Linked DNA regions of Homo sapiens. The protein of the gene in region 1 interacts with the protein of each later gene in a pairwise test. Each region holds a gene or a part of one and is shown on either strand. Other genes may lie near its edges. The genes, in order: RNF112, A2M, PARK7 and ELAVL4.

What was found.
Region 2: the proteins of RNF112 (region 1) and A2M interact in binary tests that used the Homo sapiens proteins (3 or more experiments, as listed by UniProt).
Region 3: the proteins of RNF112 (region 1) and PARK7 interact in binary tests that used the Homo sapiens proteins (3 or more experiments, as listed by UniProt).
Region 4: the proteins of RNF112 (region 1) and ELAVL4 interact in binary tests that used the Homo sapiens proteins (3 or more experiments, as listed by UniProt).

What each region holds. Positions count from the first base shown.
Region 1 is NC_000017.11:19,407,346-19,414,232, reverse strand, and holds the start of RNF112 (RING finger protein 112), read right to left. Parts: upstream 3,002-6,887; 5' UTR 2,825-3,001; coding exon 2,771-2,824; intron 2,763-2,770; exon of another isoform or gene 2,734-2,762; intron 2,604-2,733; coding exon 2,563-2,603; intron 1,736-2,562; coding exon 1,450-1,735; intron 1,296-1,449; coding exon 1,089-1,295; intron 954-1,088; coding exon 822-953; intron 657-821; coding exon 552-656; intron 139-551; coding exon 88-138; intron 1-87. UniProt on the Homo sapiens protein: E3 ubiquitin-protein ligase that plays an important role in neuronal differentiation, including neurogenesis and gliogenesis, during brain development.
Region 2 is NC_000012.12:9,067,193-9,070,938, reverse strand, and holds the end of A2M (alpha-2-macroglobulin isoform a precursor), read left to right. Parts: intron 1-360; coding exon 361-451; intron 452-1,125; coding exon 1,126-1,194; intron 1,195-2,096; coding exon 2,097-2,199; intron 2,200-2,714; coding exon 2,715-2,756; coding exon of another isoform or gene 2,757-2,887; exon of another isoform or gene 2,888-3,099; coding exon 3,100-3,116; 3' UTR 3,117-3,231; downstream 3,232-3,746. UniProt on the Homo sapiens protein: Is able to inhibit all four classes of proteinases by a unique 'trapping' mechanism. This protein has a peptide stretch, called the 'bait region' which contains specific cleavage sites for different proteinases.
Region 3 is NC_000001.11:7,971,689-7,978,722, reverse strand, and holds part of PARK7 (Parkinson disease protein 7), read right to left. Parts: intron 1,072-7,034; coding exon 985-1,071; intron 1-984. UniProt on the Homo sapiens protein: Multifunctional protein with controversial molecular function which plays an important role in cell protection against oxidative stress and cell death acting as oxidative stress sensor and redox-sensitive chaperone and protease.
Region 4 is NC_000001.11:50,104,317-50,111,953, reverse strand, and holds the start of ELAVL4 (ELAV-like protein 4), read right to left. Parts: upstream 3,035-7,637; 5' UTR 2,765-3,034; coding exon 2,756-2,764; intron 2,122-2,755; exon of another isoform or gene 2,014-2,121; coding exon of another isoform or gene 1,990-2,013; intron 1-1,989. UniProt on the Homo sapiens protein: RNA-binding protein that is involved in the post-transcriptional regulation of mRNAs. Plays a role in the regulation of mRNA stability, alternative splicing and translation.

The DNA.
Region 1 (6,887 bases):
GACCAGGAGGGCACCTAGTTCCTTTGGGTCCAGCCCTAGTGGGGAGGGTGGGGGTGGGGGATGCCCCAACATCAGAGGTCTCTTTACCTCCAGATAGTCCAGGTCTGTATCCTTCAGCTCCTGGGAGGTGCTGAGGATCTGGAATCAGAGAGAACAACATGTATGAGAGATTACAGAGGCCGGGTGACTTCACTGGGGAAGGCCCTGGTGAGTAGGGAGCTCGCAGGCAGCCTGTGGGCCTCAGAGTATGGGAGAGGCCAGTATGGGGGCCTCGAAGGCTGCAGGGCTGGGCTGGCCTCAAGGCCGGAGACAAGCCTGGAGGGTAATGTGATCCATCAGGTCTTCAGCTGCCCCTGGGACCATCAGCCCACTTTTAGGAATAACCCACGTTCCCACCTTCACCAACTAGGAGCACCTTCCCCCTTCTAAGGCAGCCCCAGAACCTATCAGGACCCCAGACACCAAAGCCTGTGAGATGCTCTGGCCTTGAGGAAGCTGAGCTGGAGAAGGGTGTGTGGGGTGGGGATGCCAACATCAGCGCCCCCCATCACCTGGTAGGAGCTCAGCATCGTGGTGAGAGCACAGAGCTTGATCCTTGTTTCCCTGCTCAGCTCAGGGCTCATGGCATCCCCTGTGTCCACCAGGAACACCGCCACCTATGCAGGGGGTAGGGAAAGACCCAAGGGGCCAGGCCTGCCTTGTTCTCCCACATTCTTCCCAACCCTGCCCCGTCCCATCCCCATCTTCTATCCTCACCCCAGAGACGCCCTTCTTGATTCCCCTTCCCATCCCTGACCTCCTTCTGCCACTTCCCCCCTCACCTTCTTCCCTTCTTTCCCCAGCAAGAAGGGGTGGCTCCACATCCATATGCCCCTGGCGAGGCCATTGGCGCCCCACCTGCAGCCCTGCAGGGATGCCTCTCCTCCTCTTGGCCGGCCGCCCTCACCAGACTCCTGCAGGGGAGAGAAGGGAGAGCATCAGTTGGTCGGTTCCTTGTCCCCACAGACCGGAATACCAGACCCAGCTTCCCCCAGGCAGGAACCCCCATCCTTGCTCCCCGCCTCCCTCCTGCCCCGCCCCGCCCTCACCAGGCCCGGCAAGCCCTGAAGCAAATGGTTGAGGAGGAAGGACTTCCCTGAGTGCTGCTCCCCCAGGACAGCGAGGAGGCAGACTGGGGTGTCCCTGGCCAGAGGGTGCTTCAGGCAGCGGTTGATGGCCCCCATCCTAAGGATGAGGCCCCCAGAGGCATTGATGCGAACCAGCAGCAGCGGCTCCGCCCTCACAGGACACGTCTCCTGGGCCAGGAGAAGAGAGGGGCCCCTGAGCATCCAGGACCAGCTCCTGACCCTGGAATGTGTTCAGCCTGGAGCTCTGTGTCCTGATGTTCTAGAATAGGGCCAAAGCCACCCCCTCCTCTTGGGTCTGACTGATTAGGCCCAGTCCCCAGACCTGCAGTGCAGGGGGCAGCGGCCGCTGCGGCAGGAGCTTCATCTTCTCGCCCAGGCTCCGGAGGCCCCTCTTCTGCTTGCATATCTTCCGGCACTCAGGACAGCAGGGCGGCTCACAGCCCGGGAGACGGTGTGTGCTGAAGCACCGTATGCAGAAGTCGTGGCCACAGTCCAGCGAGATGGGGTCGCGCAACCTCTCCAGGCAGATGGAGCAGGTAGGGAGCTCCCGGGGCGCCATGGGCTGGGGCCCCAGGCCTAGCTCCAACTTGGGGAAAGGTGTATGGGACCTGTGGGGCAAAACAGGCCATTGAAAAGCAGGATGTCTATTGGGGGCAGGGGGTACCGGCCAGGGTTGTGGTGGAAGACTGATGGCTTGGGAGTGGAGGTCCCTTTGTGCCAACCCAATTTCCATCAGTGCCTCCATGGACAGGCGGAGCTGCTCCCAGAGAGGCCAAGCTCTGCCCGTTCCTCACTGACATGTGTCCTAGGACCTGGGGGCCTCAGAGTGGGGGCAGCAGAGCAATGGTGAGAGAGTCTGAGAGGGAGAAAATCTGAGTGGAATGGACTCCACCACATCCCAGCCATGCAAATGCAAGCAAGTTCCTTCCCCTCTCTGGGCCTCAATTTCCTAACTGTCCCAATGGAGAGGATAGCAATACCCCTCATGGGGCCGTTGGGGTGGCCATCCGAGAGGAGGCGTGTGCAGCTGTCTGCACAGTGCCTGGTGCAAATGCTTGGGAAGAGCCTCTCCCGGCGTTCTACAGCGGGGCTCCCTCCATGAGGTGCTGACTTCAGCCAGGCCCCCAGGGATGATACCCTCCACAACCCCATGCTACAGGGACAGTGAGGAGAAGCCATCAGCCTGTGCTGCAGTTGGGCAGATGGCTCTGGATCTTAGAAGATTCCTTCCGCTCTCTGCTCTGAGCTGGCATCTGCCTCCCTGCAGCACCCACCTGCTTCTTCCTGTCCCTCCCTCCACAGCCTGGCGGATCCAGCCTCAGGCGGACAGCCCTCCCGGCTGGGCTGCCGGGCTCTGTGTTCCAGGACCGGCCATTTCAACTGACCTGCCTGGCCTCACTGCACCCATCCCAGCCTGGAAGGCCCTGCTACTTACCAACTGTTGCCGCTGTTTCCCATGAAGCTCTGTTTTCTCTCCTTGGAGAAAAAAAAAAAAAAAAAAGATTTAGAACATAATCCAGACTTCTATCTTCACCCTGGATTTCCAGGGACCCCTCATCCTCCCCACCCCCGGCCCATCCCCCAGCCCAAGGAGGGCCCTTCCCACCCCACTCTCCTTCCCGATCTTAGGACTGAAGACTTGCCCGTTTGCCAAGCCGATGACAAAAGGAAGTGACTGACAAGGCGGGCCTTGGCATGGGAGGCTGGGATGGGGAGAGGGTCCGGATGCAGAGGGGGAGGCCCCGAGACCTTCAACCAGAGGTAAGGATGCCTTTTCTCCCGGAAAGGCTAGCAGGCTGCGGTAGGTAGAAGGTGAGGTCGGGGGATGGTATCCCCGAGGAGCTGACTCCCGGTCAGAGCTGGAAAAGAAATGTGACAGTCAGGAAAGAGGAGGCTGCTGCTGGACTCACCCCAGGGGGAGGAGACACGGCTGCGGGTAGCAGGGCTCCGAGGAGGGAGGGATGGAGCCCGGCTCAGAATCCCTGGCAGAGGCTGGGATGCAGGCAAGCCGAGGTGGTGAGTCGCCATGGAGACAGAAGGGAAAGATAAGGACAGGGAGGGGGAGGGGGACAGAGAGGGAGAAGGCGTGCGGTGCACCCGCAAACATGGAGGCGCCTCCGGCAGAACCATGGGCCAGCACTGCCTCTACTGGGCCAGCTGAGGTCTCCCCAGGGCCACAGGACAGGGTGGGCAAAGAGAAGAGGTGTGAGAAACAGGAGAGGGTAAGACCAGAGCTGACCCAGAGACAAGGAGTTATTCATCCATTCATCCAATGAACAGTTACTGAGTACCTACTATGTACAGAGCCCCCAAATGCAGACCCTACTTCACATGGCCCTGCACATCCTCCTGCTCTCTCTCAGGTTTATGTCATCGACGCCCAACCCAGCTGCAGCCTTCTTCAGCACTCATGGGCCCTCCGTGTCCTCTGGTGTATTTCCCTCCCAATAGCTTTCACTCTGCCTCAAACTTGAGCAGGATGAAATCTATCAAAACTATGAGCCACCTCTGGACCTTCTAATGGCCTCTTGACTGGGCTCCTTGCCTCCCTTCCACTCCCCAGTGCACAGCCAGCATAGGCTCCCCAAGCACAGATGACCTCACACTGCGCAAACACCTTTTGTGTCTCCCTACTACCATCAGATCAAAATCCAAACTCTCCGGCCTGCGGACTGGGCTGAACCTTCCTTCCACCCTTCTCTCGCCCCACTCTTCCCTGCCTCTGCACCCTGGCTTGGCTGCTCTGCTCCTTCTCATCCCTCCTGGGACACCCTCTTAGGCCCAGTGCAGGTGCTGTGGCCTCCCTAGAGCCTCCTTTCCTCACCCCTCCCAACTGGGTGCGGTCTTGTTCTTGGACAGTTGAGGGCTGGGATATGTGATAGGCTTGGCGCAGCCCAGGCTTCAGAGCCAGGCAGATCTGGGCTTGATTCTCGGCTCAGGGGCTCTGGGACTCCACTGCACCTCTCTGTGCTCTGAGGAGCCACCATTACCTATGTAAAGCCACTAGTCCAGGCACGGGAGTCATTCGTACATCCTATGAGCTAGGATGCAGAAGGGTTGGGGTGAGGTGGGATTCAGAACCTAGAAAAGTTCAGCAGAGACCACCTTCAGCAGGTGGAGACACCCCTGAAGCTGGGGCTGGATCTTGTTCATTTTGGTGTCTGGAGGGCCTGAGATTGTGGGGCTGAATCAATCAGATTCAGAGAAGCAGTGCCATAGACTCTGCCTCCTCCTGCCCCAGGTGGGACAAGCCCCTGTGTGTTGGCAGCAAAGCCTCACACTCAGGGGATGAGGAAGCAAGCCTGAGCCGTGCCACAGCTCTGCCTTCAGGGCAGAAGGGAGGGTTTTCTCAACCCCTGTAGCCTTTCATCCTTGCAGGAGAGAAAGCGTGGGCGCTGGACTCAGATTCAAGCTCTAAACCTGCCTCCATCCCAGCATGAAATGCTGGTGAGTCACTGCCCTCTCTGAGCTTCCATTTGCTCATCACCAGGCAAAGATGTGAGGAAGCAGATGGGACAATCAGTCTTCACTTAATGATACTTACTGAGCACCAGGTACTGTGTCTCACACTGCAGTACAGCTGGAAACAAGAGAGACAAAGCTCCATCCTCCCCAAGATCCCAACTGGACAATTAAAAGGCATTGCTATGATCTGGGTGAGAACCTGGATGCGGGGAGGGTGAGGAGGGGTGTCAGGCTGTCCTGATAAGCAAGGAGGTAGAAAAAGGTTGTCAAGGCAGGGCAAACCACAGGTACAGGGCCCAGAGGAGAGGGGACACAGAACCCATTCTGGGGAACAAAGGAGGTCCGGCTGGCCTGGCAGGAATATTTGATGCAAAGATGGGTGCACCAAGGTGAAGGGCAGAGCAGGCCTGGGTCATGCAGGCCCTCAGGGGCCAAAGGAGGGGATAGGGACTTCACCAGTCAGTATCTCAGGAGGGATCCCGCAGGGCAAACATGTATGGTAGAAGCCTCACTCTTAGGGCTGGCTATATAATTTTATTTATTAATTATTGTTATTATTATTATTATTTGAGATGGAGTTTCGCTCTTGCTCAGGCTGGAGTGCAATGGCATGATCTCGGCTCACTGCAACCTCCGCCTCCCAGGTTCACGCGATTCTCCTGCCTCAGCCTCCTGAGTAGCTGGGATTAGAGGCATGTGCCATGACATCTGGCTAATTTTTGAATTTTTAGTAGAGACGGGGTTTCTCCATGTTAGTTAGGCTGGTCTTGAACTCCCGACCTCAGGTGATCTGCCTGCCTTGGCCTCCCAAAGTGCTGGGATTACAGGTGTCAGCCACCACGCCTGGCCAATTTTGTTGTTGTTGTTGTTGTTGTTGAGATAGGGTTTTACTCTGTCACCCAGGCTGGAGTACAGTGGTGTGATCTCAGCTCACTGCAACCTCTGCCTCCTGGGTTCAAGCAATTCTCCAGACTCAGCCTCTCCAGTAGCTGGGACCCCAGGTGCACACCACCATGCCCAGATACTTTTTGTATTTTTTTGTAGAGACGGGGTTTCATCATGTTGCCCAGGCTGTTCTTAAACTCCTGAGCTCAAAGTGATCTGCTTATCTCGGCCTCCCAAAGTCCTAGGATTACAGGCATAAGCCATGGTGCCTGGCCAGGCTAGCTATACAATTTGTGGATTTGGTGAAAAATGTAACTGCAAAGCCCCCACCAGAGGCAAGAAAGTCCATTGCCTCTTCTAATGGCACATTGCCTCCACACATGGCCAACAGGCAGCCCCTCCAGATTGCCACAGTCATTTTAGGACACGCTCAATACCTGGATTGGGGGTCGGGGAGAAGCCTATGCTAAGTTTCAGCCCAGGGAGGGGAGAGCCACCACTCTGTCACACCCTAAGATGCCAGGGGCCAATCCAGCAGTCCCCAGTCCTCCTTGAGCCTGCATTCAGGCCTCCAGATGAAGGGGGGCAGCCATGGTGGGGCAGAGGTGGGGACACTGGGAGCCTGGGAGTGGGCAGCCAAGAGCCTGTGCTGGGGAGGCAGTGGGACATGGGACACACACAAACCAGCTTCCGAATTCCCAGTGAAGGCGCCATTTTCCCATCAGACTTCACTCACAAAGCACAAATTCAATGCTAAAATGATTGTTTCAAGATGGTGACCAGAGCACTGAAGCCCAAGCACACAGCCCTTCTGAGCTCTCGCCTTGAGTGGCTGCACTGGATGCATACCTGGGAAGCTGGCCCCTCCCACTCTGGCTGCTGTATGGACAACAGACTAGAGGGGCAAGCGGGGAGGCTGAGGGTGCTGCTGGGGAAGTCAAGGCCACAAGTGGAAATACAGATCCACTTGGGATCATACCCGGGCACCTAAAAGAGGGCATTCCCCAAGGCACGGTACAGGCCGACCAGGTGGATAGGAGACGGGAGGAACACCAGGCCTGCTCCTGGATAAAGGATGGGATAAAGGATGGGCCCTGCTCCTTTGCAGCCAGAGGCCTCTGATGCTATCTAGGGCCCCAAGGGGAACCCCTGGCCCAGGGAGGCCAGGTGTGGTGGTCCTGGGTCCATGTCTATGGGCAGCCCCGCTTTATCCATTATGCTCCATGAGTCTCTTGAGTCTACGGTCTATGAGAATGTTTGAAACCTAATGGAAAAATGAGACTCTCCAAACCACAAAAAGAAAATTTCAAAATCAAAAGTAACACCCACTTAGTTTAATGTCCCAGTACCCCTTACATGATGTTAGCTGGTAAACCCAGCTCGAGTTATCATCTGTAAAGTCAGATTCAA
Region 2 (3,746 bases), on another chromosome or scaffold:
TGAGGCAGGAGAATCACTTGAACCCAGGAGGCGGAGGTTGCGGTGAGCCGAAATCATGCCATTGCACTCCAGCCTGGGCAAGAAGAGTGAAAAACTCCATCAAAAAAAAAAAATGCAGATCCTCAGCCCCCATACACTAGACATTCTGATTCATCAGGTCTAGAGTAGGGCCTGGTCTCTGTGGCTTTAACAGGCTTCCTAAAAATTCTACGCACACCACTTTTACAAACCACTGGGATAAGATATTTGGGAAGACTTACGTGTACCTTTTAGAGCTGTGGAATGCTTAACATGGACATAGAAGAAGAAAATATTTAAAAACACAGAAAACCCTAATCCTTTCCTCCCCTGGATCCTCAGTTACACAGGGAGCCGCTCTGCCTCCAACATGGCGATCGTTGATGTGAAGATGGTCTCTGGCTTCATTCCCCTGAAGCCAACAGTGAAAATGGTAGGTTTATCATAACCCCAGACTGCCCTATTTTATTTAATGATGTATGTATCCCCAGCATAAGACAATACTAATATCAAAATACTATTAAAGTCAATCTCTATCAAAGCCTTATCCTTTTTCCAGCTCAGAAATATAATCACATGTGTTTGTATGAATGCTGACCATGTGCAGAGCACTGTGCTAGGACCCATGACTACAAGAAAAAGATTGTCAGCAGGTTCCTGCTTTTCAATTTCTTCTTAGCTTAGAATTTTGCTAAGAAGATAAAAGATATGAACACGAACCAGTGAAAAATATGAAAATGACTGATTGGCATAAACTATAAGTATTACAGAAGTTAAAAGAAAAATAGAGCAAGCAAAACAGGAAAAAAACTCCTTATGAAGAAATAGAAACTGAATTGAACTTTGAAATATGAGTAACTACCAAGTTTAGGATACTTAGCTGTCTTTTCTTCAGATAAATAACTTTACACATTAGTCGTGTGTTATACTAATAGTAAACCCTTTATGCCTTTCATTTTTAATTGTATTACATTATATATTTCCTTACAAAAAGCATTTGAAGAATTCTACCCTCAGGGTTATTTTGGCAATACAAAGATTTTTTCTCTGGATCCCCCAGGGGTTTCATCTATTTATTAACATTTGTGGTATTTCAATTTTCTTCAGCTTGAAAGATCTAACCATGTGAGCCGGACAGAAGTCAGCAGCAACCATGTCTTGATTTACCTTGATAAGGTAAGAGAACTTCCAGTCTATTTGCAAAAAAACGTAGATAATAATCCTCTAAGGGAACATCTGGGAAGGTAAATGCATTTTAGAAACATCACTTCCATGCTAGAAATTTGAGAATTCTAATGTTAACTCTAAAAGAATGTTCTTCTCTCCTTTATTTATATTTCACCAGGGATTACAGGTAGAAATGGCTTATTATGATCTTGGGATATGAATATTCCTAAAATCCCATAAGCAAGAAATCTTCACAAAATGTGTTTATTATGTTGACAAGTTTTTTGGATACCCAGTAATATAAGGAAGTAGCCCTTGTGATTAGTCAATTATTAGTTAATTATCAACATACTCAACAACAATATGAAAGGGAAAAAAAACTGTCAGTCTCCACAAGGACTTGAACCATAAAATAATAAGACCAGTTCACCAGTAAACCAATCTGATTTTATAGATATGTGTGGTAGGAGAGTTTGTTCATGCATAAGTTGATGGGAATTATAGTTTACAAATTTTATGAAACTTAAGCCTGGGAAGATCAACCTTTTAGATGCCTCTTTGAGTCTACGCAAGTATTCCTGCAAGACAGAGAAGTCAAACTATACCAAATCTCTGGATATTAAAAAATGAACACAGTTAGTCATCCAATAAAAAGTATATATCATTTACCCCCATGAACAGAGCTATGTATTGGCATTGACAGAGGTATATGCGTTATGTTAGTTATTTAAGAAATAATCTGGAGAATTTATCATCCCCTCTGAGAGATTTCTGCACAATTTAATTAAGGACCCTATAGTGTGCTGTAGGATAATAAAGCTTTTCCCCCAAAAAACAGGTGAATACTTAAACTAATTCAAAGAGAGAAGAAAGCTTCCTGAAAGGTCATTTAATTGACTTTTGCTTTCCAGGTGTCAAATCAGACACTGAGCTTGTTCTTCACGGTTCTGCAAGATGTCCCAGTAAGAGATCTGAAACCAGCCATAGTGAAAGTCTATGATTACTACGAGACGGGTGAGTGAGAGTGATTTTCACGTAGAAATATTTAATTCCTGATCACAGAAATTCAGGTTTAGGAGATGTGTTGGGGTTATTTATTACATTAAGTAATTACATTATCACTTCATTTTGTCTCCATCAAGTCTGATGCCCCTCTTTTTGTCTCTTATACATACATTATAGAAACAACCTACATTATAAATTTATCAACTACTAATACAAAACACCTGTGGGATATTTAGTTCCCTTTTCATCAGATAAATGGACTGTATGACAATATGAGATTTAAGTAAGTAGAACATCTGAAGAGTCCTTCAGGAGTTTGGGATAAAAGAATATATAAAACACTATATTTGAAAGGAGAATATAAGGTAGCAAGCAACACATCAGATGAATGATGCTTATGTTTCTGGTACAATACTGTTCTTCCCACAACAAACTCCTTCCTTGGCCTGTATCCCACAGATGTTTGCTTTCTTTCTCACTTCATGTAATGATTTCTGGTTTTTTGTTGGTTTTTTTTTTTTCAGATGAGTTTGCAATTGCTGAGTACAATGCTCCTTGCAGCAAAGGTAAGCCACTCACACTCCTCCAAAAGGCAGTCAGAGCTCCTTCAGCTTGCCCCCCAAACCTTCTCCTTCATAAAACGCTGGGTAAATATTTGTCAAAAACATCAAATTACTCACACTGCACATTATTATAGAAAAACACATTTATTGGAGAGGGCCGCTGACTCTGTCAAACCTCAGAGAGTCCATAGGATTGCTTATGGGTAATGATTTGGAATAGATTTGGTTTCCCACTGTACTGATTAGGTTTCCTTGGGCACTATGCTACCCAGAACTAAGGGAAAGAATACTCTCTGCTCATGGAGACCCAAATCTGTCTTAATTTTTTTTCTTTCCAATGTCACAGATCTTGGAAATGCTTGAAGACCACAAGGCTGAAAAGTGCTTTGCTGGAGTCCTGTTCTCAGAGCTCCACAGAAGACACGTGTTTTTGTATCTTTAAAGACTTGATGAATAAACACTTTTTCTGGTCAATGTCTTTCCCTGTTTCCTGTTCATTCAATAAATATCATTGTACATTTCCATATGATTCCCAATAGAATACCAAGATTAAACTTAAAGGAATCAAGTGCTGAAGGACTTCAGAATACAAAAAAATGATACAGTGATGTCGGTCTGAGTAGGCTTCATGTAAGGACTGTGGGGAAAGAAGAAAGTATTGGGTTATGTACTAGGAAAGTGTAAAGTGTGTTTGGTTATGGGAATACCCTATGAAAAACCCAAAGGGTGAATTTTTATGAGAAAATAAAAGACTGACTTCACCAGAAAAGACTTTTTACATTAAAATGAAGTAGAATGAAATACAACATTGAACATGTCATATTGAGAGGCAAGATAATTGGGACTTGACCTGAATTGGGAGTGATGTGTCCTATGTTACACCAAAATCTGCCACTGATGAGAGTGATCAGTCAGTTAACCTGGGGTTTCAGATTCAATAATAGATGAGCTGAAAATAATGAAGGGAGGATTCATGCAGAAGCACGTTTTCTC
Region 3 (7,034 bases), on another chromosome or scaffold:
CAGTGTGCATCACCATGCCTGGCTAATGTTTTTTGTATTTTTAGTAGAGATGGAGTTTAACCATGTTGCCCAGGCTGGTCTCGAACTCGGGGCTCAAGCGATCCACCCGCCTCAGCCTCCCAAAGTACTGGGATTACAGGCGGAAGCCACTGTGCCCAGTCTACAAGAAACTTGTGGTGGCACATGCCTGTAATCCCAGCTACTCGGGAGGCTGAGACAGGAGAGTCCCTTGAACCCGGGAGGCGGAGGTTGCAGTGAGCTGAGATCACACCACTGCATTCCAGCCTGGGCAACAGAGCGAGAGACTCCATCTCAAAAAAAAAAAAAAAACCACACACAGGCATATGGGCCAGGCGCGGTGGCTAACACCTGTAATCCCAGCACTCTGGGAGGCTGAGGCAGGCAGATCACAAGGTCAAGAGTTCGAGACTGGGCGCGGTGGCTCATGCCTGTAATCCCAGCACTTTCAGAGGCTGAGGCGGGTGGATCACAAGGTCAGAAGTTCAAGACCAGCATGACCAACATGGAGAAACCCCATCTCTACTAAAAAATACAAAAATTAGCCAGGCGTGGTGGAGCACACCTGTGATCCCAGCTACTCAGGAGGCTGAGGCAGAAGAATCACTTGAACCCGGGAGGCGGAAGTTGCAGTGAGCAGAGAACGCACCATGGCACTCCAGCCTGGGCAACAGAGCGAGACTCTGTCTCAAAAAAAAAAAAAAAAAAAAAAAAAAAAAGAGTTTGAGACCAGCCTGACCAACATGGTGAAACTCCATCTCTACTAAAAATACAAAAATTAGCTGGGTGTGATGGCATGCGCCTGTAATCCCAGCTACTCAGGAGGCTGAGAGAGAAGAATCGCTTGAACCCGGGAGGCAGGGATTGCAGTAAGCCAAGATCACGCCACTGCACTCCAGCCTGGGCGATGGAGCGAGACTCCATCTCAAAAAACAAACAAACAAACAAAAACAAGCATATACTTACCTCCATTCATCATTTTGTCTTTAGCAAGAGGGTGTGTTGTAACTTTACTTCCAAAACCTATTTCATGAGCCAACAGAGCAGTAGGACCTAAGAATAAAAATAAAAAGATCTAAGTGCAGATATAGAAAAGCCCATGTTTAAAAAATCGCAATAGTGCCTGGCACAGTGGCTCATGCCTGTAATCCCAGCAATTGGGGAGGCCTAGGTAGAAAAATTGCTTGAGCCCAGGAATTCAACATCAGCCTGGGCAACACAGACCCCTTCTCTAACAACAACAAAAACTGCAACAGCAAAGTATTCTTCAAAATCAAGAGGCTCTTACCAAACATACAGCTACGATTCTGAAATGAAACACTTCCTAGTATGAGAGATAAAGTATGTTTATAACAAACGATTTGCTGAGCACATCTGGCAAAAGCACAGAAACTCAAAATACTTCAATAACCATTTACTCAAGAAGATTTACCTTGATACCAGCAGAGCATACACAGATAAACAAAATGTGCTCACCTCTCTCACCTTCCCCATCCCCAGAACAGGGACCACATATACCAGGAGTCCAAAGGAGGGGGAGGATCACTGGGGCGGGCTCAACTTCTTACCTCACTCTTAGTAAAAGGAAAGATTTAGTTACATGCTAAAGGCAACTGGTACTCTCTGAACTTCTGGATTTTATTGCTCTTTTGTAATCTTATTTTCTACTTGAAAATGGGAAATTAGGCCGGGCACGGTGGCTCATGCCTGTATTCCCAGCACTTTGGGAGGCCAAGGCGGCTGGATCATGAGGTCAGGAGATCAAGACCATCCTGGCTAACACGCTGGAACCCTGTCTCTACTAAAAATACAAAAAATTAGCTGTGCGTGGTGGCGGGCGCCTGTAGTCCCAGCTACTCGGGAGGCTGAGGCAGGAGAATGGGGTGAACCCGGGAGGCAGAGCTTTCAGTGAGCCAAGATCGTGCCACTGCACTCCAGCCTGGGCGACAGAGCGAGACTCTGTCTCAAAATAAATAAAAAATAAATAAATAAAATGGGAAATTAACACTCGTTCATCCACCTATCCACCCAAGTATGCCAGGTGGTAGGATTAAAATGGACAGCACACTGTCCTTGAAGGAGATAGCCTGTGAAGTGCCTGGAAGTGTGAGATATAAAGGCACTAGCATCACGTGATGAAAGCTACTTAAGCAAAGAACCACATGGAAGTGTCAGTTGATGAAGTCTTTCCAAATTGGCAGGTCCTAACTTGAGATTTTTATTTAAATGTATTCACTGAAAACGGCCAACTTCAGGGAGGGTCACAAGCATATTGCGTATGTAATGGTCCTAAATAAGGATTAAAAACAAAGATTTTATATACCTTTCATTGTTATTTCATCTTAAAGCTTTTTACAAAGTATTCATTCTACCTTTTTCCTCTAAGCCACACATATAAACATTCTTTCTAAGGCCTCACATGACACTTAGAAGGATACGTTTCAGAACAGCACCTTGATCTTGGAAACACTTAAGGTGCCCTGGATGGCTAAGATCCTGTGGCACAGTTTGTACACTTTTAGTGTCAGCAAACCTGAGAGGTCTTGGTCTTACTGTCCTTTCATTTTTCAACAAGACTCCAAGGAAGGAATTATATAATATACCCACAAGCTACTCAGACCGTAGCTGTTACAAACAGGAAGATCACACAAATACTACCTAATTACATAAGCTTTCTGCCTAATATCAGCTGTCAGTTTCAGACCAAGTCCTGATTTATAGCTCTTAAATCAAAAGCCTCAAATGTCTCTTCTCCACGTTATTTTTACACACAAGACAGCTATGTATGGTAGCAAATTTTAGAAGTCCGTAAGAATTGAATAATTATCAATTTTTATTTGAATGGATTTATAAATTGTTTTTAATTTTTATTTGGTAAGAATTTAAGAAGAAATTCCTACATCATCTTGCATTTTAAAGTAAACTTTAATAGATGATAGCACAGTGAGGAAAGTGATCGGTGAACGAGAATTTTTAGGCTGCTCCCTTCAAGGTGGTAATAAAATCACTGCTACGATGTGAATAAATTTATGTTACAGTTGGATTCAGGAATTTACTGATGTCTTTCATACTTATCAGGTAAGCTCATAATCACTGCTTTCTGGGGCGTCAGAACCCTATTTGGAATACTGGAGAAGAGACGTTTCACTCTCCCAGGACCTGGGATTCTGATGGATGAAAACGCTCTGTACTCTGCACTACAGTGCAGAGGGCGCAGCTGACCATGTCCCCTTCTGCAGCCAACAGCACCACCCTGTGGTAACATGCAAAATGACCACCTCTGCCAACTCCCCAGCTCCTCCAGGTGGCCAAGACCTTGCTTCCAGAGGCCTCATTCCTAGACCTGGGCATCTCAGCTGACAACTGTCCACTCCTCCAACTCCACACTTCCTCCCCCTCCCCTACTCAAAGTAAATATCATTTAATTTTCTTCTCAACATAGACTCCCTTCCAATTTGCGTTCCTCATTCACTCAATATTAAGGACTAGGCTAATATTCTTTGTGTTCAAAATGTTTCCAATCCCTAACTGCAACACTTCAGAATAATCTTGGCTGGGTGCGGTGGCTCACGCCTGTAATCCTAGCACTTTGGGAGGCCAAGGTGGGCGGATCACGAGATCAGGAGTTCGAGACCAGCCTGGCTAACATGGTGAAACCCCGTCTCTACCAAAAATACAAAAATTAGCTGGGCATGGTGGCAGGTGCCTGTAATTCTAGCTACTCGGGAGCCTGAGGCAGGAGAATCGCTTGAACCTGGGAGGTGGAGGTTGCAGTGAGCCGAAATTGCACCACTGCACTCCAGCTTGGGCAACAAGAGCAAAGCTCCCATTTCAACAAAAAAAAAAAAAAAAAAGAATCTTATTTTTCTGTTTGCCAATTTAAAAGATCCAAATCTCTTCCATCACTCCTCTGTTCCATTCCCATAACCCTCATCTCAATTAGCTCAGCTCATCATCACATTTTTTCCTATTTCTGGTGTAGTGCCCACAACAGTGGTGCAGGATATTCAATGGTATAAACACACTGCTAGTGTGTTTTCTATTTTTACTGTTTTTTATATAATTTTTTTTTTTTTGAGATGGAGTCTCACTCTGTCGCCCAGGCTGGAGAGCAGTGGCGCAATCTCGGCTCACTGCAAGCTCTGCCCCCCAGGTTCACACCATTCTCCTGCCTCAGCCTCCCGAGTAGCTGGGACTACAGGCACCCGCCACCACGCCTGGCTAATTTTTTGTATTTTTAGGAGAGACAGGGTTTCACCGTGTTAGCCAGGATGGTCTCGATCTCCTGACCTTGTGATCCGCACGCCTCGGCCTCCCAAAGTGCTGGGATTACAGGTGTGAGCCACCGCCCTTGGCCTATTTTTACTTTTTTTTTTTAAGAGACCAAGTCTTGCTCTGTCCTTTAGGCTCAAGTGCAGTGGTGTGATCACCACATCTCAATGTAACCTCAAATTCCTGGGCTCAAAGTGATCCTCCCACCTCAGCCTCCTGAGTAGCTGGGACTACAAGTGTGCACCACCACACCAGGCTGATTTTTTAAAATATTTTTTTGTAGAGGTCGGTGGGGGGGTCTCACTATGTTGCCCAGGCTGGTCTTGAACTCCTGGGTTCAAGTGATCCTCCCACCTCAGTCTCCCAAAGTGCTAGGATTACAGCTATGAGCCACCACAGCCAGCCTGTTTATTTTTTAATGTTGATTTAAAGTACTATAAGGCCCATGCTTCTTAGCATGGCATTCCATCTAGCCTCAGCACAAAACAGTAAGCCAAATGTGGTTGATTTTTTTTTTTTTTTTTTGAAACGAAGTCTTGCTCTGTCGCTCAGGCTGGAGTGCAGTGGCACGATCTCGGCTCACTGCAATCTCCGCCTCCCGGGTTCAAGCGATTCTCCTGCCTCAGCCTCCCAAGTAGCTAGGACGACAGGCATGCGCCACCATGCCCTGCTAATTTTTGTTATTTTTATTTTTATTATTTTATTTTATTTATTTTTTGAGACGGAGTTTCACTCTTGTTGCCCAGGCTGGAGTGCAATGGCGCAATCTTGGCTCACTGCAACCTCCACTTCCCAGGTTCAAGCGATTCTCCTGCCTCAGCCTCCCAAGCAGCTGGGATTACAGGCACGCGCCACCACGCCTGGCTAATTTCTGTATTTTTAGTAGAGATGGGGTTTCACCATGGTGGCCAGGCTGGTTTCGAACTCCTGACCTTAAGTGATTTTGCTACTTTTGTGGCACAGGACAAACTGACATGTGGTTTTTACTTTCAGCAGAATCATAAGGAAACAAACTCAGCCCAAACTCTTTCTTCCTTTGGTCAAAGAATCTAGGACTGAGGCTTGCTTCACAGCAGCAGAGCCAAAGAAAACCAAACTCAAGGATCTGTGACTTTCTCTCCAAAGAGGGGAGCAGCTGCTTGGGCTGCAGTGACTGCAGTGCCCTTTGGCAGAGATAATTACCTGAGCCTCAGGGCAGGTCAAAAGGCTAGTGGTGACTCTTGTAGTAAGCCCACGTACAAGACCTGCCAGGGTGGTCAACCTCTGTGGTTCTTCCCAGCCCCTAATGCCACGGTTCTCAAACATTTAGGTCTTAGAATCCCTTTAGCTTTTATGTGGGTTATATCTATGAACATCTGCCATATTAAAAATTATTACTTTTTTTTGAGACAGTCTTGCTGTGTCACCCAGGCTGGAGTGCAGTGGCGTAATCGCGGCTCACTGCAACCTCCGCCGCCCGGGTTCAATAGATTCTCCTGCCTCAGCCTCCTGATAGCTGGGATTACAGGAATGCATCACCATACCCAGCTAACTGCCCAGCTAACTTTTGTATTTTTAGTAGAGACGGGGTTTCACCATGTTAGCCAGGCTGGTTTCGAACTCCTGACCTCAAGTGATCCTCCCACCTCAGCCTCCCGAGTAGCTGGGATTACAGGCGTGCACCACCATGCCCAGCTAACTTTTGTATTTTTAGTAGAAACGGGATTTCACCACGTTTGCCAGGCTGGTTTTGAACTCCTGACCTCAAACGATCTGCCCACCTCAGCTTCCCAAAGTGCTGAGATTACAGGCATGCGCCACTGTGCCACGCCAATTACTTTTAATGGCAAAAACCACAATTACTTTTACATCAACCTAATAAAACTGGGAAATTTTTAAAACACAATAATAAATTCTCAGATGATGGTATCATCCTACTCTGATGTCACTCCTGAAAGACTGAGAAGAAAAAAGGCGAATAACATTTTGTTTGAAAGACATGGTGTCACTCTGCTGCCCAGGCTGGAGTGCAATCATAGCTCACTGCAGCCTCTAACTCTTGCCTTCAAGCGATCCTCCCATCTCAGCCTCCTGAGTAGCTGGGACTACATGCATGCAGTACTGTGCTTGGCTAATTTTTTGTTTGTTTGTTTGTTGAGATGGGGGTCTGGCTATGTTGCCAAGGTTAGTCTCAAACTCCTGGCTTTCAAGAGATCCTTCTGCCTTGGCCTCCCAAAATGCTGAGATTACAGGCATGAGCCACCACACCTGGCCCCTCAGTAGCATCTGCTTTGACCTTGCAAGTGCACCAAAAGAACATTGAGAACCACTGATACTCGAATGTATCAAGTCCCCAGGACCTCTGGCCCATAACTTCTTTTGAAAAGCCTACTGTATTGAACAAAATAGCAACAGCAACATGTTTTGATGTTGATGTTTACCAAACCATCCACTCATTCATTCGTTTATTCATTCACTCTTCTGACAAATATTTATTTTATTTTATTTTATTTTTTTTTTGAGACGAAGTCTCGCTCGTGTCCCCCAGGCTGGAGTGCAACGGCACAATCTCGGCTCACTGCAACCTCCGCCTCCCGGGTTCAAGCGATTCTCCTGCCTCAGCCTCCCGAGTAGCTGGGATTACAGGCGCCCGCCACCACGCCTGGCTAATTTCTGTATTTTTAGTAGAGATGGGGTTTCACCATGGTGGCCAGGCTGGTCTTGAACTCCTGACCTCAGGTGATCTGCCCGCCTCAGCCTCCCAA
Region 4 (7,637 bases), on another chromosome or scaffold:
CTGATCATGCATCTATTTTGTCCTTTAGTAAAAAACCCTAACAGATCACCATTTCAATTGTTTTTACGCTATCTCCTGTTCACCCAAATACTACACCTTTCAATCCTTATGGTACCCACCATCATGAGAAAAAGAGACTATTAGTAAAGCACATTTAGAGAAAAAAGAGAGATGCTTGTCACCCAGTGCACACATGGGTCCCAGACGTCCAAAGACACTAATATAAAAATCAGCTTTTCACTCAGTTTGTGCCAAGACCAGAATCAGGACCAAATGCCAAATGGAAGGCAGTGGTTATGAGAGTGCAAGCCTGATGGATCCTGTGACTGTGGGCATGGGGAAAGAAGGAAAGCAAAAAGCTCTTCATTTATTATTTTGTAAAGTAATTTCTACTGAGGAAAAAAATGAGAGGTACAATGAATTCCCCTGAAACTATAGTATCAACATCCGATTTAGTAAAAATACCAAAATCACCTAACCCCAAATCATTGCTTAGGGTAGATCTATTCTACCTATATTTTTCCTATGAATATTTGCTGGAAATTTCTAAGAAATCATTTGCAGAACCTATCAGCTGTGGGAGTTCACTATTATGCTTCCGTCAACTTCATTCAATATAATTTACATTTTTTCAAATGGTCTCACAGGATTCCTTGCGATTTTTCGCATGTACAATTTCACACCAGGGAAAAGGGGGAAAAAGGAAAAAAAAAAAAGCAAGATTCCCTACCCTCCCTTCCCCCTCACCTCCTCTCTGGGTTTTTTAAACAACAACAACAACAACAAAAACCACACGCGCACACACACACGCACACACACACAAAAACAGGGGAGACAGAACAGATGCTTAAAAATAGATTTCTAAAAATCACTGTAAACCAGAGTTAGAAATGTAATTAACACCTATTAATAACGAATAATTAAAGTTGGGCTGGCCACAAAGAACAGCAAAGATAATCGAGGTCCTGTCCCCCTCCCCTTTTTTTTTACACTGTTTGCAGTGTGTTCTCATGATAGCCACCTGCTCCCTACTCGGCTTCTCCTCTGTTCGTTTCCCCGGCAACCTTTCATTGGGTTTTCCTCCCAGCTATCGCTTTCAGTTGGGCTGCTCGGTCTAATCTTATTTGTTTTACACCCATCAAAACAAGCAGCCAGACAAAGGCAATCCTCTAAGAATGGGAAAAAGACCACAGCTTTGTTATAACATCTATGCAGAGCAAAAAGTCCTCCCCAGGCTTTTCTAGGGAAAAATAAGTAAGATGGTTATGAATTTACAGCCTGCCCCCATACCCAGCTCTGAAACCTTGTGAAACCTATTGCTGGTGAAAATTCAAAGTCAAAGTGGGCACTCGTGGCATCTAATCATGCCATTTTGTGCCATATCTTCAGGGTCAACATCAGGCGACAGAAGCGGCACTCAAGGAGTTTCCCTGCTTCTTTTTTCAGAAAAAGATGATGCTAAAAATAGATTTACTACTTCGGCAGAAAGGTTTTCCACTTCCCCTTCCACATCCGAAAGTCCTGTTTCACAATTGCATCGGCTGGTACTGAATCTCACCTCCTCCACCCCTCATTCCCATCCTTCCCCATCACTCCTAGCATGAGACTGAAAAAGAAATGTGCCTTTAACTTTAGCAGTCGTGTAATTCCGTTGAAGGCTCACAGAGGCGGTGGACACGCCAGCCAACAGTGACGGTGACATTGATTGTCAAAAAAGACACCAACCTTCCTTGGCTAAAATGTGTGTTTGCTGGAAGAGGCAGTGTGTGTGCCTTGTGTGCATGCAGTGCCATTACACTTGGAGATGGATTCTGGTTTTCAGAAAAGAGAAATACTAATAAACACACACATACATACACACACAAACGATCAGCACAGTGATTTACGATGCACAGTCCAGCATCCTTACACATACACACATACAAGCACACACACACACACACACACACAGGGCTGGGACCTCCAGGCTGCCTTCCTCTTTTCACTTACCATCTTCAAGCCATTCCACTCCATCTGTGATCAGAAGAAGATGGACCCTCACACAGTGTGTCAAAAGCGGAAAGGAACGTTATGTAAAAGCTGACATTCCTTCTTACAGAGCTGCTGCCCAGAGAAGGAAGCAACAACTCAACACGCCAGGCACTGCTACACATACAAGCCGCCTCCTCTTTTTTATGAGGTCATGACAGGAAACTCTTTGAAATACAAGATGCAGCATTTACTGAAGCCCAAATAAATCACTCTCTTTGCCGTTTTGACTGCGCAGTCCCCCGAAACACAACTGCCCATCTCAGTGTTCAGTATCCAGGAGCTGCCTCTCGAGGTTTAAATTTCCAGCACGGAAATTGAGAGATTCCTAACCCCGCTGCATCCACCCCCAGCCCCACAAAACCCAGGCACGTAGACAAACCCCCTCTCCCTTACAAAAAAGAAAACCCTTCTTTTGCCATTATGTCTCAAGTAATATAACCTCTTTCAATAAACCAGCAATTATTTCAGCCCTCCCCCTCCACCCCTTGCCTTTATGTTGAAGGGAAAACTGACAACGACTTGCTAAAAATGACAATCTTATATCCCCATTGCTTTTCAATAAAAGGACCTACCCGCACTCTCTACACAAAAGAGATAGTAAATGTAGGAACCAAACAGCAGCACAGAACTAAACTCTTGTGCAAGCATAAGACTGGTCAAGGTGTAGATGCTTTTCTTCCCTCCAGCAACACAAACAACAGATTATAAATCTAGTCATACCTACCATAACCATTCTTATTGGCAAATATTGGGTCTCGCAGAGCTTCGACTCTTCTGTTAAAATTTGCAAAGATTTCAGAATATATATTTAAAATGACTACTATTGTTATATATAATTAAAGATCCACAAAACACAGTGTGGATGATTGTAAAGCAAATCAATTATTTTTGGGGGGGTGGGCGGGGGAGAGAAAGAAAAAAAAGAAAAGGAGCAGTGAGCTGAAACCCCCGATTCTAGGATGTAGATAAGAACAACTGAACAGAGCCTTGCTGAAATTGGCTCGAAGCTTCCCCTTTTTACATCCATTTATGGGACCATCTGTCAGCCGAAGCCTGGATCTGATTGGCTGGGGAAACGAAGGGAGGCGTTGCAACATCAGGTGCTATTTAAATTAGCTACTGCCAGATTGACGATGTTAATGATTTGGTGACCTCTACAACAACAGAGACCAGATTTCTGAACTGCTTCTTGTGTCTGGTAATTAAGGCCCGGCTGAAGCAACAACAGCCATACTTGTATTTTTACCTTTTCCCTCCTCCCAGCTCAAAAGTACTGTAACAACTGCAGGTCACTGGAGGCTTGCAAACCTAAACTAACAGTGGGAGGGTCCTTCTTTTCCCATCCTGAGGGCCGAACCGTGCCACCTCTCTGATGGAGGGCTTTTCCACCGTAGAATATTTTCAACCACCTTATCTTTCTAGACAGTTGCTTTCTAGCGAAATGCATATTTAATGATCTGCCTGTAGGCTTAAAGGTACAACAAAAGCACTTTAATGTGCTAATTCATCTACAATTTAACTTTATTATTTCCAGATATTGCTGATTTTTAGTAAGTAATGCTCCTTCTCCAGCTAACATGGCCAACATTTCAAAAGCAAGCAAGTTGGGGATTAAGCTTGCTCCGTGAACTAGGTTCATACAAGTTTGTCTCAGAAAACTATTTCCTAATAAACAAAAAGAAAAAAAATGGTGGGGGTAAGGGAGGGGCAGCTGTCAGCCTCTACCTTTCTGCCTTCTGTCTGAGCTTTTCAAAACTGAGGATGATGAATGATTTACTTAAATGAATTTATTTTTCAAGTTGGATAGGAACATGATCTGAATTTTTAAAAATCCACTAAAACACATTCTCCTACCCCTTTAGAGAAAGGTAAAACATGCTTTTGACAACAGCCTCATTTCAAAACCTGTGCAGAGTGTTCATTTTGCTTAACTAAATAAGTGATTTTGCTTCTCTCCTTCAAAGGGATGTCTTTTTTTCTTTGGCCTCTTAAGAGATTTGCAAAGAGACATTTAGCAAGTGTATGGTGAGGTATACAGTTTGTCTGCCTATTTACACATTTAACAACCTCTACACTACCAAGCCTTCAGTAGTGTATTTTTTGTTCTGGTTTGGGTTTTTTAAGTGGCTTACCTGAGAAGTTCATGCTTCACACCTATGCAAAAGACTAATGTGTCACTATTTATTTAACTCATAATTTAATCAATTTGTTCTTCAATAAATACACAGTGGTAACACATATTACCAAATACAAAATTCAATGTAATCTTTAATCTTTGACTAGAGTTGACAGTGAGACAGAACTAGGCAGAGTAGACATACAGACCAAAAAATAAGCTATATTTCTGGGTTTCAAAGTCCAAGAATAAATGGGTTTGTGAAAAATTATTAGGAAAGAAAATAACCTTACATTTTTCAAGATTAAAACTATTCTGTCCAAGATGCTGTTTCATGAACACACACATATAAACATACATATATATTCACACTTCAGAAAATACAGATACATCATAAAACAATATGTGTTGGGTACACTGCATAATCCATTAGACTTGAGTATGAATACGTTCAGCTATTAGAAATGAAAATACATGAAATAGAAAAGTACAAATGTTAAAACTATAATTCCTTAAGGTGGAACAATACTCAGTTAAGTAAACTTTTAAAGTAATTTCTTTAGCAAATGTATAAAATGTCCTGTGAGTCACAATAGTACTACAGTATCTGTTGAACTGTGTACTGAGGGTGAATTCACAGGTTAAAGTGTTCTAAATGGTTCAGCATATATACACAGAGTAGGTATGTGTGCCCCAAATCAACAACATAAACTCTGAGTGCAATTTCACCAATATTAAAATATTGTGAAAAGTAAACATTAAGACAATGCTGACAAACACAAATAAAAACAGCTCACTTGGAACAAAATATTTACTTAGATTTCTCTGGAGGTTATAAAAGATAAAAATTTTAAAAACCCTTTTCTCCCATCCATACTAACCTCAGTACACTTATTGAACCATAAATTAACATTAGGTATATTAAAAGGTATTCTGGCCACTTTTCCAAAATAGTAGCTGTATATACAGTATAAATAACTAGCTGGTTTTGCTAGGCTAAAAATTCATGCATTTTGTATATTGATCACTTTTCCACAAACCTCCACTTTAAAGTCTTTCAACAGAATCCTCAAACAAATGCACAAATGTCCTCAGAGGCCTTTTCTCTAAAGACAAAGGCAGAATCCTATTGTTGGGAAAAGTCAACCTTATTATCGCATTTCCAATAGTACAATTCATCTTTCAGAGTGAGGGGCTGACCGCTACATCAGTGATGTGACATTTGTAAAGCAACAGATTCTCAATATATTATCTCAAGAATCAGGCAGGCGAGTCTCCCAGTCATGCATGATTTTTTTTTTCTGCCACAATCCACCACCACAGAAAGAAACTTGTCTCACTCAAGCAGCTAAGGCAACCTAAAAATGATATCCCAGCACTGTGGGGCTGCCAGCGCCGCTGTATTCCTCTTACCATAAATGAGCAGTTTCTTGACTCATTAATGACAATTTCCCTTAAAAGAAGTAATCTCATATCAGTCAGCCCCTTGCCACCATGCACACATCCCAAAGGTTGCAGATATCTCAGCATCAGTCGCCGGCAGCCAGCTTTCCCACACAGAGTCCAGATGGACTGTACCAGAAGCCAATTCAGCGTTAATAACTACCTACTCCGCGCAGTGGAGAAGCCTTACGTGGCACAATGGGCTAGGAAACAGCAGCCGGCTGAAACTGCAAATAAAAAAAGACAACCAAATTCTCCAAAAGCACCAAAAGGAAGGAACAGAAATGGAAGCGTGAATTGTATTTCCTTGACTTCCATGAGGCGGAAAAAAAGGAATCCTTCATAAATATAGGGAAAAAAAAGAAGAGGGGGGAAAAACAGATGCTGCCCAGAAAAAAGTGACAAAATATTACCTCATTATTTAACAAAGCAGCATTAAGCGTCCTGCTGATTTCAAACATCTTGCCACAGATTTTGTTTTAAGAGAAACAGATAGAATCCTTTGCAAAGCACTCCGTCTGCAAAGGGTTCTTCAATTTTCTTGCGCACCACGGAACAGTCAATATATTATTTCCCTAGAGTTCGTACATTAAAACCTCTAGTCAGTGAGCTGAATTTTCCCCTTATCTCACACACAGTAGACTCCTGTTATATGTACTGCTCTCTTTGCAAGAGCAGCCTGCCCCAAACATGGCTGGTGTTTAAACTACTCTTTAAAGTAACAGTTCACTATATAACCACCAGGTGGGTAGAGTGCACAGATTCAAATGAACCATCTTAAAAGATTTCTTTTTTTTTTCCCCTTGGAATAGCTTTTGGGTGTAAAATGTGACATGAGAAACACTAGCATCTTAACAGGCAAGATTGTCTCTCACTATATCTTGTCAAAATAAATAAATAAAATTCCTTCTCTTGACTTAAAGCAAGGAAATGAAACAAAACAAAACAAAACACTGCCACAAATTCTAATAAGAACTGCGAAGAATGAAACACAAACAAGCTTTGTTTCATTCAGCAAAGGATGAACAAGGAAAATACAATCAACACAGAGCAATGGGGAAGGCCAAAAACCTCATGAAAATATTTCTCTTTAGCAAAAACAGAAAAATATTCACACACAGTGATGAAAACTCAAAAGTGTGCATGTGGATGAAGCACATACAAGATGGAGGCAAGAGTTTAAGGGTGCAACTTTTCTTCTGGGTAGAAATTAGGTTTATTTAATGTGGGTCTTTCCTGATAAGAAATAACTGAAAGCTTAAAAGTAAAGACACCGAAAAAAAATACAAAATATTAAGCCTCTCTTTTAAAAATACAATTATATGAATAGTGATAAACAACCACAAGAGCAAGCCAATCACATGTCTCTACCCATTGCTGTTCTTTTTCCCGAAGATCTGCCTCGAAGTGGAACATTTCTGTCGTATACTATTTTGGATGTATAGCTAACTTGGCATCTCCTTTGTATCACTCTATTCCAATTAATCTGCTCCTCTGCCAAGAATAAACAGAATGTCCCAAGTTGAAAGCTCCAAGTGATTGGGGGTATGTTAAAAGGATATAGAACCACCTGAACAAAAATAAATTACATCACTTATATTGTTATATGGCCTGATTTTAAGGAGGATCTTATTACTTATAAAGCATGCAACACCATTCTATGTTCCACATGTGTCTAAAACAGAAACCAACACACACAGATACCTGGGATTTTCTTTTCTTGGCTGGACAAAATTAAAGGTCTGGAACCTCCACATTTTCTTGCAAACACAGGTGTTGACAGTAATATTTTCCCAGCCCATCCAGGCCGTATTTAGCCATACACAATAGTGACTATGTCCTTCATCTTTAAGTCAAGACGGCATCACTTAATACCATTTAACCTCCTTGCATATATTAAGTTTCAAGTGACAATTTTTAACTGGGGAGTGAGAAGGAGGAGTTGCTCTCATCAAATTCTGGTTGTATGAAATAAGCTAATTTGTACACTCACCATATGTCTTAAACACTAATTAAAAAATGTCACTTTCTTCAAACATTAAAATGT